Homo sapiens: one gene and its partners. The protein of the gene in region 2 purifies or fractionates together with the protein of the main gene of each other region. This does not show direct contact. Each region holds a gene or a part of one and is shown on either strand. Other genes may lie near its edges. The genes, in order: CD22, INPP5D and CLYBL.

Region 1 (3,645 bases), on a different chromosome or scaffold from region 2:
ATCCCAGCACTTTGGGAGGCCAAGGCGGGAGGATCACTTGAGGTCAGGAGTTCAAGACCAGCCTGGCCAACATGGCGAAACCCTGTCTCTACTAGAAATACAGAAAAATTAGCTGGGTGTGGTGGTGGGCACCTGTAATCCCAGCTACTCGGGAGGCTGAGGCAGGAGGATCACTTGAACTGGGGAGGTAGAGGTTACAGCGAGCCAAGATCGCGCCACTGCACTCCAGCCTGGGTGACAGAGGGAAACTCCATCTCAAAAAAACAACAACACAACAACAACAACAATAACAACAAAAAAACAAAGCAGGACTGGAGAGAGGTGGAATGAAGTGGCAAGGGGTTCCTGAGGGGTGATTTGGGACAGGACATCTAAAGCCAGGTGTACGCTCACGTCCTCAGTCCCCCAGGCTCCTGCACGGGCTCTGTTCTTTTGCAGAAAGGCCTTTTCCACCTCATATCCAGCTCCCTCCAGAAATTCAAGAGTCCCAGGAAGTCACTCTGACCTGCTTGCTGAATTTCTCCTGCTATGGGTATCCGATCCAATTGCAGTGGCTCCTAGAGGGGGTTCCAATGAGGCAGGCTGCTGTCACCTCGACCTCCTTGACCATCAAGTCTGTCTTCACCCGGAGCGAGCTCAAGTTCTCCCCACAGTGGAGTCACCATGGGAAGATTGTGACCTGCCAGCTTCAGGATGCAGATGGGAAGTTCCTCTCCAATGACACGGTGCAGCTGAACGTGAAGCGTGAGTCTCCCCGGCATGCCTGTGGGAAGGGCAAGGTCTGTGTCACCTTCTCCCCAGCCCCGCAGGGGGCATGCACCCAGGGCAGGGGGAAGCCTGCACAGACGGCGGCATCCTCCAGCCCTGGTCACGCCGCCTTGTCAGCCCTGGTGTTTCGGGAAAAAGATTTGCTCTAGCCTAACAGAATAAAATGGTCCATCCTCAAGCCATGACATGAATTGGGGATTATCTGGTTAGGTCTTTTTGTTCCCCTCTTGGTGGGGATTTTTTTCGCATCATTATCTTGTGCCTCATTCATTCAATAAATACGTATCATGAACCTACTAGGTACCAGGCCTTATTACGGCTGCCAATGGGGGGCATGGGGCGGTGGGCAGGGTGCAGCAGTGAGCAAAACTCTTGCCCCACGCGGAGCCAGCGCTGCAGTGAAAGAGACAGACAACAAATGGATTACCAAAGAAATACAGAGCATGAGCCAAGACATTAGAATCTGGAACAAAGCAATGTTAACAAAGAAATATACAACACTATTGTAGGTAGTGATATGTGTGTTAGGAAAAAAATAAGGCCGAGAGAGGGGAGTGATGGAGAGAGACCTCTCTAAGAAGGTGAGCACTTAGGCCGGGTGCGGTGGCTCACGCCTGTAATCCTAGCACTTTGGAAGGCCGAGGCGGGGGGATCACAAGGTCAGGAGATCGAGACCATCCTGGCTAACATGGTGAAACCCCATCTCTAGTAAAAATACAAAAAATTAGCCAGGCATGATGGCAGGCGCCTGTAGTCCCAGCTACTTGGGAGGCCAAGGCAGGAGAATGACATGAACCCAGGAGGCGGAGCTTGCAGTGAGCTGAGATCGCACCACTGCACTCCAACCTGGGTGACGAGTGAGACTCCATCTCAAAAAAAGAAAAAAAAAGAAGGTGAGCACTTAAGCTGACTGGAACGGAGGGAGTGGCTGAGGCCGGCACATATTTGGGAGAGGAGGATTTCAGGGAAAGAGAAGGGCAGGTTCAAAGCTTTGAGGCAGCAGCTGGGTGGGAGGACCTCAGAGGCTGAAGTTCACCGCCTCTGAGGGCCACATGGTAGGACAGGAGGCAGGAGATGGAGCAGGACTCTGGATCCCGAGGGCTGAGGTGAGGGTTTGGGATTCTATGCAAAGCACAGAACCCGCTCGTGGTTTCCAGCAGGATTGGCGAGGTCTGGTAGATGGTGTTAGGAACCCTGCGTGCTGCTGGTGGAGACCAAGAAGTAGAGGAAGTGGGAGGGGGAAGCTGAGAGCCGAGTTAGGAGGCTGTGACCATCACCTGGGTGAAGGGACTGGCAGGCCATGGCTTTGTCAGAATAAAAGCACTTTCCACACCCTCCACCCTCTGAGGATTCCCCGCCCCCTCCCCGACTGCCCCTCTGCTCCTCCAGACACCCCGAAGTTGGAGATCAAGGTCACTCCCAGTGATGCCATAGTGAGGGAGGGGGACTCTGTGACCATGACCTGCGAGGTCAGCAGCAGCAACCCGGAGTACACGACGGTATCCTGGCTCAAGGATGGGACCTCGCTGAAGAAGCAGAATACATTCACGCTAAACCTGCGCGAAGTGACCAAGGACCAGAGTGGGAAGTACTGCTGTCAGGTCTCCAATGACGTGGGCCCGGGAAGGTCGGAAGAAGTGTTCCTGCAAGTGCAGTGTGAGCCCCTCGGAGCTGGGGACAGGCCAGGCAGGGAGGTAGCAGGGGTGGACCCGGAGAGGGGAGCCACGGGGGCTCTCGGGGCCGTGTGCACAGGTTGGGGGTGCTCTCCTCACCCCTCCACTCGCCTCTGCCCCCTCTTCCAGATGCCCCGGAACCTTCCACGGTTCAGATCCTCCACTCACCGGCTGTGGAGGGAAGTCAAGTCGAGTTTCTTTGCATGTCACTGGCCAATCCTCTTCCAACAAATTACACGTGGTACCACAATGGGAAAGAAATGCAGGGAAGGACAGAGGAGAAAGTCCACATCCCAAAGATCCTCCCCTGGCACGCTGGGACTTATTCCTGTGTGGCAGAAAACATTCTTGGTACTGGACAGAGGGGCCCGGGAGCTGAGCTGGATGTCCAGTGTGAGTAGCCACGGAGCCTCTGGTTCTAGGGAGAGAAGATGGACACAGGGAACGGGGAAGGCAGATGGGGTGCAGGGCATTCCGGGGTCCTGGAGTCAAGAGCAAGGAGCAGCCAGGGTCTCCTGTTCACAACTGCTGTCTCAGCTCCTAGCATAGGGCCTGGCTCATGGAGGGTGCTTGGTAGATGCTTGTTTTTTTGTGTTTTAGTTTTTTTTGAGATGGAGTCTCCCTCTGTCTCCCAGGCTGGAGTGCAGTGGCACAATCTCGGCTCACTGCAAGCTCCACCTTCCCGGGTTCATGCCATTCTCCTGTCTCAGCCTCCTGAGTAGCTGGGATGACAGGCGCCCGCCACCACGCCCGGCTAATTATTTGTACTTTTAGTAGAGACGGGGTTTCACCGTGTTAGCCAGGATGGTCTCGATCTCCTGACCTCGTGATCCACCCGCCTCGGCCTCCCAAAGTGCTGGGATTAGAGGCGTGAGCCACCGCACCCGGCCTGTAGATGCTTGTTGAATGAATGAGGCCAGGTGCGGTGGCTCCCGCCTGCAATCCCAGCTCTTTAGGAGGCTGAGGCAGGAGGGTCTCTTGAACCCAGGAGTTTGAAACCAGCCTGGGCCACACAGCGAGATACCATCTCTACAAAAAAATACAAAAATTAGCTGAGCATGGTGGTGCGTGCCTGTGGTCCCAGCTACTGGGGAGGCTGAGGAGGGAGAATCACTTGAGCCCAGGAAGTGAAGGCTGCAGACTGAACTATGTTCCTGCTACTGCACTCTAGCCTGGGTGACAGAGCAAGACCTGGGTCTCAAAA
Region 2 (3,645 bases):
GCACCACCACGCTTGGCTAATTTTGTATTTTTAGTAGAGACAGGAGTTTCACCATGTTGGTCAGGCTGGTCTCGAACTCCTGACCTCAGGTGATCCACCCACCTCGGCCTCCCAAAGTGCTGGGATTACAGGCATGAGCCACCACACCTGGCCCTCTGATACATTATTAATGAATCTCCTAAGGCTGGACAGTAAGGTTGCTTCTGATTTTTTTCTGTGCTGAGGCCTGTGCTGCAGAGCCGTGACAGGGTTGGACTTCTGCGCAGCTCCTGATCACTTTGTTAAAGTCGCACCTTTGCAGGGGAGTGTCTAGGCCAGAAGCCACTCGCTTATGACTTTGGACACATGTTTCCAGGTTGCTGTCCTGGAAGTTCACACTGATTTACGCTCCTCTCAGTTTTCTTGAAGCTGACCAAGTCCTTTGCAAAGTGTAATGTGCAGGGAGGCAGAGGCCTTTCTAAGTCTGTCTGCCCTTCCATCCCTAGAAGAGAGAAGGCTTCTGCCAGCTCCTGCAGCAGATGAAGAACAAGCACTCAGAGCAGCCGGAGCCCGACATGATCACCATCTTCATCGGCACCTGGAACATGGGTGGGTCCGCGCGCCCCCTCCCTGCAGTCACCCCCTCTGCTTCTGCTTTCCTGACTCAGGCATCCTCAAGGTGGGGTGGAGTGACGACATCCATGTCCCCTTCCTTCCTGCCCCAGGGCCCTGCCCCTAAGCCCCAGCCCACCCGCACAACCTCCTTCCTGAGGAATTCCACCCTTTTCCTGAGATGATGGGTAAGAAAAACGAGCTTTGGGACTATCGTACCCCAAGAGCAGCTGGCGTGGGTTACTCTGTATGTCTAAATTGGAAAGTTTTAGGGAAAGAGTCTGAATATCTAGGTGAAGGGGCTCATGGGAACCCTGCCAGCCCTAGGCAGCTCACCAAGGGGCCCCAGGCCTGAGAGAAAGAAGTCCACCCTGAGTAGGGTTGCCAGATTTATCAGGAGAGAGACAGAGAGAGACAGAGAGATAGGTACGTAGACAAAGGATGCCCAGTTAAATTTTAACTTCATAGAAACAATTTTTTTTAGTATATGTTTAGCTACAAACAAATAAATACTAAATATATATGCTCATAGACATTATGCTGAATATATAGTATATATACATATGCTAAATAAGTGTAATTATTATATTAAATATGAATTATACTAAGTAATATTAGTTTAAGCATACAGCTAATAATATACTAAATATATGCTAAATATATTTTGTATTAAACATATATATTGTGTATTTACTAAACACATGCACTCTACTAAATATAAATAATACTAAATAATTTTTTAGTGTAAGTGTTCAGGTAGAAATAAATTAGATAGAAGACATCCAGATAAACTTATTCTAAAAACTACCAGTTTATCTGAAATTGGAATTTCACTGGGTGTCGTGTGTCCCCTACCCTTGTCCTGAGAGGAGTCTGGGAGGAAGAGGGTGAGCAGTGGCTGGCAGGGGCCTCCTGGAAGTGAAGTGACAGCTTGTCACTCGTGTCCCAGGGCCACAGCAGCCGTGGAGTAGAGCCCGGGCCAGTGCCCCAGGGGGTCACTTGTCCCCTTCGGTCCCTTTCAGTGTTTCTAATAAGAGACAATAGTCTGCCTGATCTCCTCCCTCTGGACATGGTCAGGGATGTCCATGACACAAGGGCAGGGGTGCCCTTCCCACAGAAGAGTATGGAAGGAGCCAGCTGAGGCCATGCCGCAGGAGGGCCGGGGACCCACCAGCCCGGGGGTTCGGGCACCCACTTTGAGCCTCTTGGGGGAGCAGAATTTAGCCACAGTCCATTTACTCCAATGCTTGGCTTCTTTGCACTTGTAAGGCAAGAAGCTCATCTCTTTGAGGAACAAAGTTTGCTCATCCTTCAAGGGCATTGTAGGGAGAACCGTTCAAAATTTCTTGATTGAGCTTCTTCAACTCAGTTTTGAAATGGGAATGCGGAGGAGTTTCCACACTCTCCCGTTTCTCTGGCTCACACCCAGGCATCCCTCCGCTCTGGGCTGGGATCTGTCTTGCAAGGGAGACTTTGTTGTCTCCCAACAATGGGTTAGAACCCGCCATCTAAAACTTGTCAGTTCCCTTGGCTGTCTTGAGAATAGGATGTGAGTTCCTTGAGGGACAGGACTGTGTCTCAATTATCGTAGCCTCAAAGTGCAGGACAGTGTCTGACATCAGGGAATCTTCTGGTGTTTCTATACCTTGAAACTTGACATTACGTTTAAAAAGAGGCTTAACTGAGCTCTAGCCCTAACCGACATCCTGGGTGAGGTTGGCGCCCAGGCCTCCATTGCAGGCATTTCTTTGGGCTGCCTGGATGGTCTTGTGTAATGACGTGACCTCCCTCACACTCCCGCCCTCTGTTTTGAATTCTCCTAATGCTTTGACTCGATGTGCCTTTGACTCACTTGGTGTTGGGTTTTGCTGTTGAAGGTAACGCCCCCCCTCCCAAGAAGATCACGTCCTGGTTTCTCTCCAAGGGGCAGGGAAAGACGCGGGACGACTCTGCGGACTACATCCCCCATGACATTTACGTGATCGGCACCCAAGAGGACCCCCTGAGTGAGAAGGAGTGGCTGGAGATCCTCAAACACTCCCTGCAAGAAATCACCAGTGTGACTTTTAAAACAGTGAGCAGCTGGCTGCACGCTGGGTGGGCTTCCGGGATAGAATCTTTGCTCGGCTGGGCTGTCTCAGAGGCAAGGGTGGGCTCAGCCTATCAGCTCTCAGTTTTCAAGGATGTCTGGAGGCCCCCACTGAGAGATGCGTCTGTATTCAGAAATAAATGGGATCTGTGGGGTATTGCTGAAAACCACTGAGTCCTCTATCTTCCCACCCTTGGTCAGCCCCGGTTCTCATCTTTAGGATGTTTTGTCTCGCCTATCAAGCATCGCTGGGAGTCCCCCGAAGGGTTGGGATTACAGACAGGATACCCCATACCCAGGGGCTGCGGCTGGGGCTGGGTGTGAATCACTGTGCCCTGGTTCACACCCTACACTTGGGCCGAGTATTGCAACGTTGTCCTCCCACCAGGTCGCCATCCACACGCTCTGGAACATCCGCATCGTGGTGCTGGCCAAGCCTGAGCACGAGAACCGGATCAGCCACATCTGTACTGACAACGTGAAGACAGGCATTGCAAACACACTGGGTGAGCAGGGCGGGGACCCTGTGTTCCTCCCACACCCTCTGCCTCAACTCTCGCGACCACATCATCCTGATCCCACCAGTAGTTCCCCGGGTTAAAAACAGAGAGCCTCACATCCTCAGATCCTGGCTCAGTCCTCAGCAAATAGGGGTGATTGGTCTCCCTGGCTGAAACTCACTCAGGGTCTACACCAGCAGTCCCAGGGATCTAGCTAAAATGCAGGTTCCGACCCAGTAGATCTTGGGTGGAGCTCAGGGTTCCAAGTTTCTGACAGGTTCCCAGGCGACTTGAGCGCTGCTGGTCGGCCCGTGGGACCCATTTTAAGAAGCAAGAACCTAGAAGAGGCATTGGCCAACTTTTGCAGGAAAGGGAAGGGCCTGACAGTAAATATTTCAGGCTTTGCAGGCCACTCAACACTATTCCTCTCTGCCTTTCTGGTGGGAAAGCAGCCATAGGCAACCC
Region 3 (4,148 bases), on a different chromosome or scaffold from region 2:
AGCCCAGATTGCACCACTGCACTCCAGCCTGGGTGACAGAGTGAGACTCATTCTCCAAAAAGAAAGAAGTTCTGGATTAAAATGAAAATGATTTGAGTTGGAAGACGGAGCAATCAGCAAACCTAAAAACAGGTCGGCTGGGCACGGTGGCTCACACCTGTAATCCCAGCACTTTGGGAGGCCAAGGCAGGTGGATCACGAGGTCAGAAGATCGAGACCATCCTGGCCAACATGGTGAAACCCCGTCTCTACTAAAAATACAAAAATTAGCTGGACGTGGTGGCGCGTGCCTGTAATCCCAACTACTCGGGAAGCTGGAGCAGGAGAATCGCTTGAACCCGGGAGTCAGAGGTTGCAGTGGGCAGAAATTGCGCCACTGAACTCCAGCCTGGTGACAGAGCAAGACTCTGTCTCAAAAAAAAAAAAAAAAAAAAAAAAAACAAAGACAGGTCAATTGACATTGTCCAGCCTGAGGAACAGAAAGAAAATGGAACAGTCTCAAAGACCTGTGGGGTTCCATCAACTACACCAACATATACGCAATGGGAGCCTCCGAAAGAGAAGAGAGAGATAAGAGAGTAGACTTTTTTGAGAGAACAATAGCCAAAAACTTCCCAAATTTGATGTATACACATCCAAGAAACTCAATAAACTTCCAAGAGGATAAACTCAAACAGATCTACACACATCATAATAAAACCACCGAAAGACCAAGACAAAGAGAAAATCAAGCAAAAAAAAAAAAAAAAAAAAAAAAAAAAAGACTCATCACTTACATAGAACCCTAATAACATTAACGTCTGAATTCTCATTAGAATAATGGAGGCAAAAAGACAGTGCGATAATACGCTTTAAAATGCTCAAAGGAAAAAAAATGCCAATCAAGAATCCTATATTCAGCGGGTAGACATGTCGAGAACAGACCAGTGTGCTAAGGCGGGTGAGGAGCACTGAGTTAACCCCCAGCGTACTGGCGTGGGGACTGTGTGCGCTCACTGGACCCGCTACTGAACAGGTCACAGACGCTGGCCCCCTCAAAAGGCGCCAGAAAAGGACCCTTCTGGACCAGCCTGGATACACTGCCTGAGCTGCTCCTCTAGGGCGAGGGGTGACTCCCCTGTGCCAGGGGCAGCGGAGGAAATGGGAAAGTGGGATGCATAAGACTAGGTGGGTCCTCCCATAGGACATGGGTGACTGAAGAGTCACAGTGCAAGAAGACGTAAGAAGTTCAGACCCAGGCCGGGCACGGTGGCTCACGCCTTTAATCCCAACACTTTGGGAGGCCGAGGCAGGTGGATCACCCGAGGTCAGGAGCTCCAGACCAGCCTGGCCAACATGGTGAAACCTCGTCTCTATTAAAAATACAAAAATTAGCCGGGCATGGTGGCGGACGCCCTGTAATCCCAACTACTCCGGAGGCTGCGGCAGGAGAATCACTTGAATCCGGGAGGCGGAGGTTGCAGTCAGCTGAGATGGCGCCATTGCACTCCAGCCTGGGCGACAAAAGCGAAACTCCATCTCGGAAAAAAAAAAAAAAAAAAAAAAAAAGAAGTTCCAGACCACCAGGCCGGCCATGGTGGCTCACGCCTGTAATCCCAGCACTTTGGGAGGCTGATCCGGGTGGACCCCCTTGAGGTCAGGAGTTCGAGAACAGCCTGGCCAACATGGCGAAACTCTGTCTCTACTAAAAATACAAAAATTAGCCAGGGGTGGTGGTGCACACCTGTAATGCCAGCCACTCAGGAGGCTGAGGCATGAGAATCGCTTGAACCCAGGAGGTGGAGGTTGCAGTAAGCCGAGATTACACCACTGTACTACAGCCTAGGTGACAGACCGAGACTCTGTCTCAAAAAATAAAAATAAATAAATAAAGAAGTTCCAGACCAGGAGCCATACACTTAGTGTTTGAACCAAACTCTCTCATTACTGGTCATAGGGCTTTGAGAATCCTTAACCTTTCTGACCCTGTTTTTTCATCTTTATAAACATGACACCCAACTTCTTCACATGGTGGTCAAGGGAACCAAATGAGACCATGTATGTGCACGTACCTAGGCGATGGGCAAGTGCTAGACCAGCGGTTCTCAAAGTGTGGTCCAAAGACACCTGAGGGGGTCCCTGAGACCCGTTGAGAGGGTCTGCTTGGTCCTCCCTTTCCCAACTAATATCTGCATCTGCATGAGCCCAGAATTTCTTTCAAATATTTCCTTCAAAACAGCTGATATGAGACTCCAGCTGTCCTTTATTAAACCAAAGAAATTTTCAAAAATATAAAAACCATGAGCCAATCTTCTCACTTTTTTTTTGAGAAGTTATGCATTAAAGTGTTATTTGTATTAAAAGTTAATGGGTTTGTTATTAAGTGAATATTTTTTAAATTTCTGGTTTAATTCCTCATGCACAAAAATCAATAGATATAAGCAAAAGCTTTGGGGGGTCCTCAAATTATTTTTAGACGTGTAAACGGGTCCTGAGACCAAACCGTTTGGGAACCGCTGTGTTAAACGAACCGCAGGTGTTCTTCACCAGGCAAGCCGCCTCTCAAAGACTGGCGCGTTCACGTTTGCCATTTGGGGGAGGCAGGCAGTTTTGTTTCCTGGGGCTGAGTCCAGGTAATTCGACCTAAGGTGTGTACCCATTTTCCGGGTGCAACGAGGGCCCTCCCAAAGGGAGGCGCGGGCGGCAGCGACCTTGGACGAGGTCGAGCCAGCGCGTGGGAGGCGCATGGTGCTTCCGTCCGGCTGGGTTCCCGTGAGGGCTTGGGGAGGCCGCGCCCGGCCCGCGGGGCTGCAACAGGAGCCGACCCGCGGCGAGCCGGGCCGGGAAGGCGGGGAACGGGGACCTGCACTCACAGCCTCAGCAGCGCCGCCGCCGCAGCTCCGCGCGCCGCCCTCCGCAGCAGACGTAGCGCCATCTTCCCGACGCGCGCGCCCCGCCCTTTGCCTTTAGCCACGCCCACCCCACATTCCACGCCCCCACGGCGACACCGACCCCCCCCCCGTCCCAGGCCCCGCCTCGCTCTGTCTTCGCCCCGCCCCGTCCCGCCAGCCACACCCCGCCAGCCACGCCCTCCTTCCTCCCAGCACCCGCTCCGCCCCGCGGCGAGTCCCGAGGTCAACTGCCCTCCCGGCCAGGGCTTAGGACCTTCGTCCCCGCTGTCATGGGGGACAGAGCAGAGGATCTGAATGGTTGGGGCCTCTTTGAGGGGCCTCTCTGGTGACCGAATCCAACTCTCTGAGCTTCTGAGTTTTTGAGGCAACTGTTGACAGACTGCGTTTTCCCAGCCAGAAGAGCCAACATTTCTAGGGATTTCTTCGCAGCTTTTGTTGTTAAAATACCGCCTAATACTTTGTGAGCCCCATCATGTGCATATCTTGGTTAGCAATTAATCTAGAGTGGTCAAAGTGCAGGAAGGCTGCATCCTGGAACACACATGCCTGCAATAGGTCAGAGCAGCTGTTGGCACTCTCTGGGCAGGGAAACTGACAGCAGCTCTTTACTCTGCCCCCTGCAGCCGTTCTGCAGCGGTGAGAACGCCGAGGCGTTAAAACAGGCTGGGCCCTGCCCCTGCCTCTTCTTTCACCTTCCCTGATCCAGCCGGCCTCCACCTGCCGACCTTCACCTACCCGGGCCCATGTTACCCCTTAACCATGTCTTTTCCTTGGCACTCGGCATGTTTCTTTTTCAGCTGTGACTCCGTTCCATTCATGCTCTAGACTTAAACCTGAAACCGTTTCTCAGAACCTTCCAGTGGAAGCTGACTTGTGCTCTTGGATGCAAAAAGTGGCCGTTTAAACAAACAAAAGCCTTTTCAGCCAGAGGGGGTTCCAAGATTTGGAAAAGTCCAGGTGACTGGGAACATGGATGCTAAACTTCTGCTGAGCCTAAGAATTATTGTTATATTCGATACCAACAGGGGAGACTGCTCAACCCCTTGGTGCCCTCCCCCAGCTCCCACGCCTGCTCCACCTCAGGCCTCGCCTGTCTACTCCAATTTGGTCACTTTCTTGTCACCACCTTAGTCCCAGCCAGTGCCCGGTCCAGCCATACTGAAGCCTGAGGCAAAGGCAATTTCAGTAACACCAATCCTGTCTTTAATTAAAATTTTGATATTTTGTTCATAATGGGATTTTTCCATTATCTTGGTT

Evidence for each region.
Region 1: the proteins of INPP5D (region 2) and CD22 purify together in Homo sapiens (affinity purification with western blotting; one study listed by BioGRID). This does not show direct contact.
Region 3: the proteins of INPP5D (region 2) and CLYBL purify together in Homo sapiens (affinity purification with western blotting, with the first as the bait; one study listed by BioGRID). This does not show direct contact.

The regions. Positions count from the first base shown.
Region 1 is NC_000019.10:35,335,598-35,339,242, forward strand, and holds part of CD22 (B-cell receptor CD22 isoform 1 precursor), read left to right. Parts: intron 1-438; coding exon 439-744; intron 745-2,157; coding exon 2,158-2,424; intron 2,425-2,570; coding exon 2,571-2,834; intron 2,835-3,645. UniProt on the Homo sapiens protein: Most highly expressed siglec (sialic acid-binding immunoglobulin-like lectin) on B-cells that plays a role in various aspects of B-cell biology including differentiation, antigen presentation, and trafficking to bone marrow.
Region 2 is NC_000002.12:233,161,239-233,164,883, forward strand, and holds part of INPP5D (phosphatidylinositol 3,4,5-trisphosphate 5-phosphatase 1), read left to right. Parts: intron 1-485; coding exon 486-588; intron 589-2,468; coding exon 2,469-2,665; intron 2,666-3,068; coding exon 3,069-3,186; intron 3,187-3,645. UniProt on the Homo sapiens protein: Phosphatidylinositol (PtdIns) phosphatase that specifically hydrolyzes the 5-phosphate of phosphatidylinositol-3,4,5-trisphosphate (PtdIns(3,4,5)P3) to produce PtdIns(3,4)P2, thereby negatively regulating the PI3K (phosphoinositide 3-kinase) pathways.
Region 3 is NC_000013.11:99,605,462-99,609,609, reverse strand, and holds the start of CLYBL (citramalyl-CoA lyase, mitochondrial isoform 1 precursor), read right to left. Parts: upstream 2,921-4,148; 5' UTR 2,915-2,920; coding exon 2,853-2,914; intron 1-2,852. UniProt on the Homo sapiens protein: Mitochondrial citramalyl-CoA lyase indirectly involved in the vitamin B12 metabolism. Converts citramalyl-CoA into acetyl-CoA and pyruvate in the C5-dicarboxylate catabolism pathway.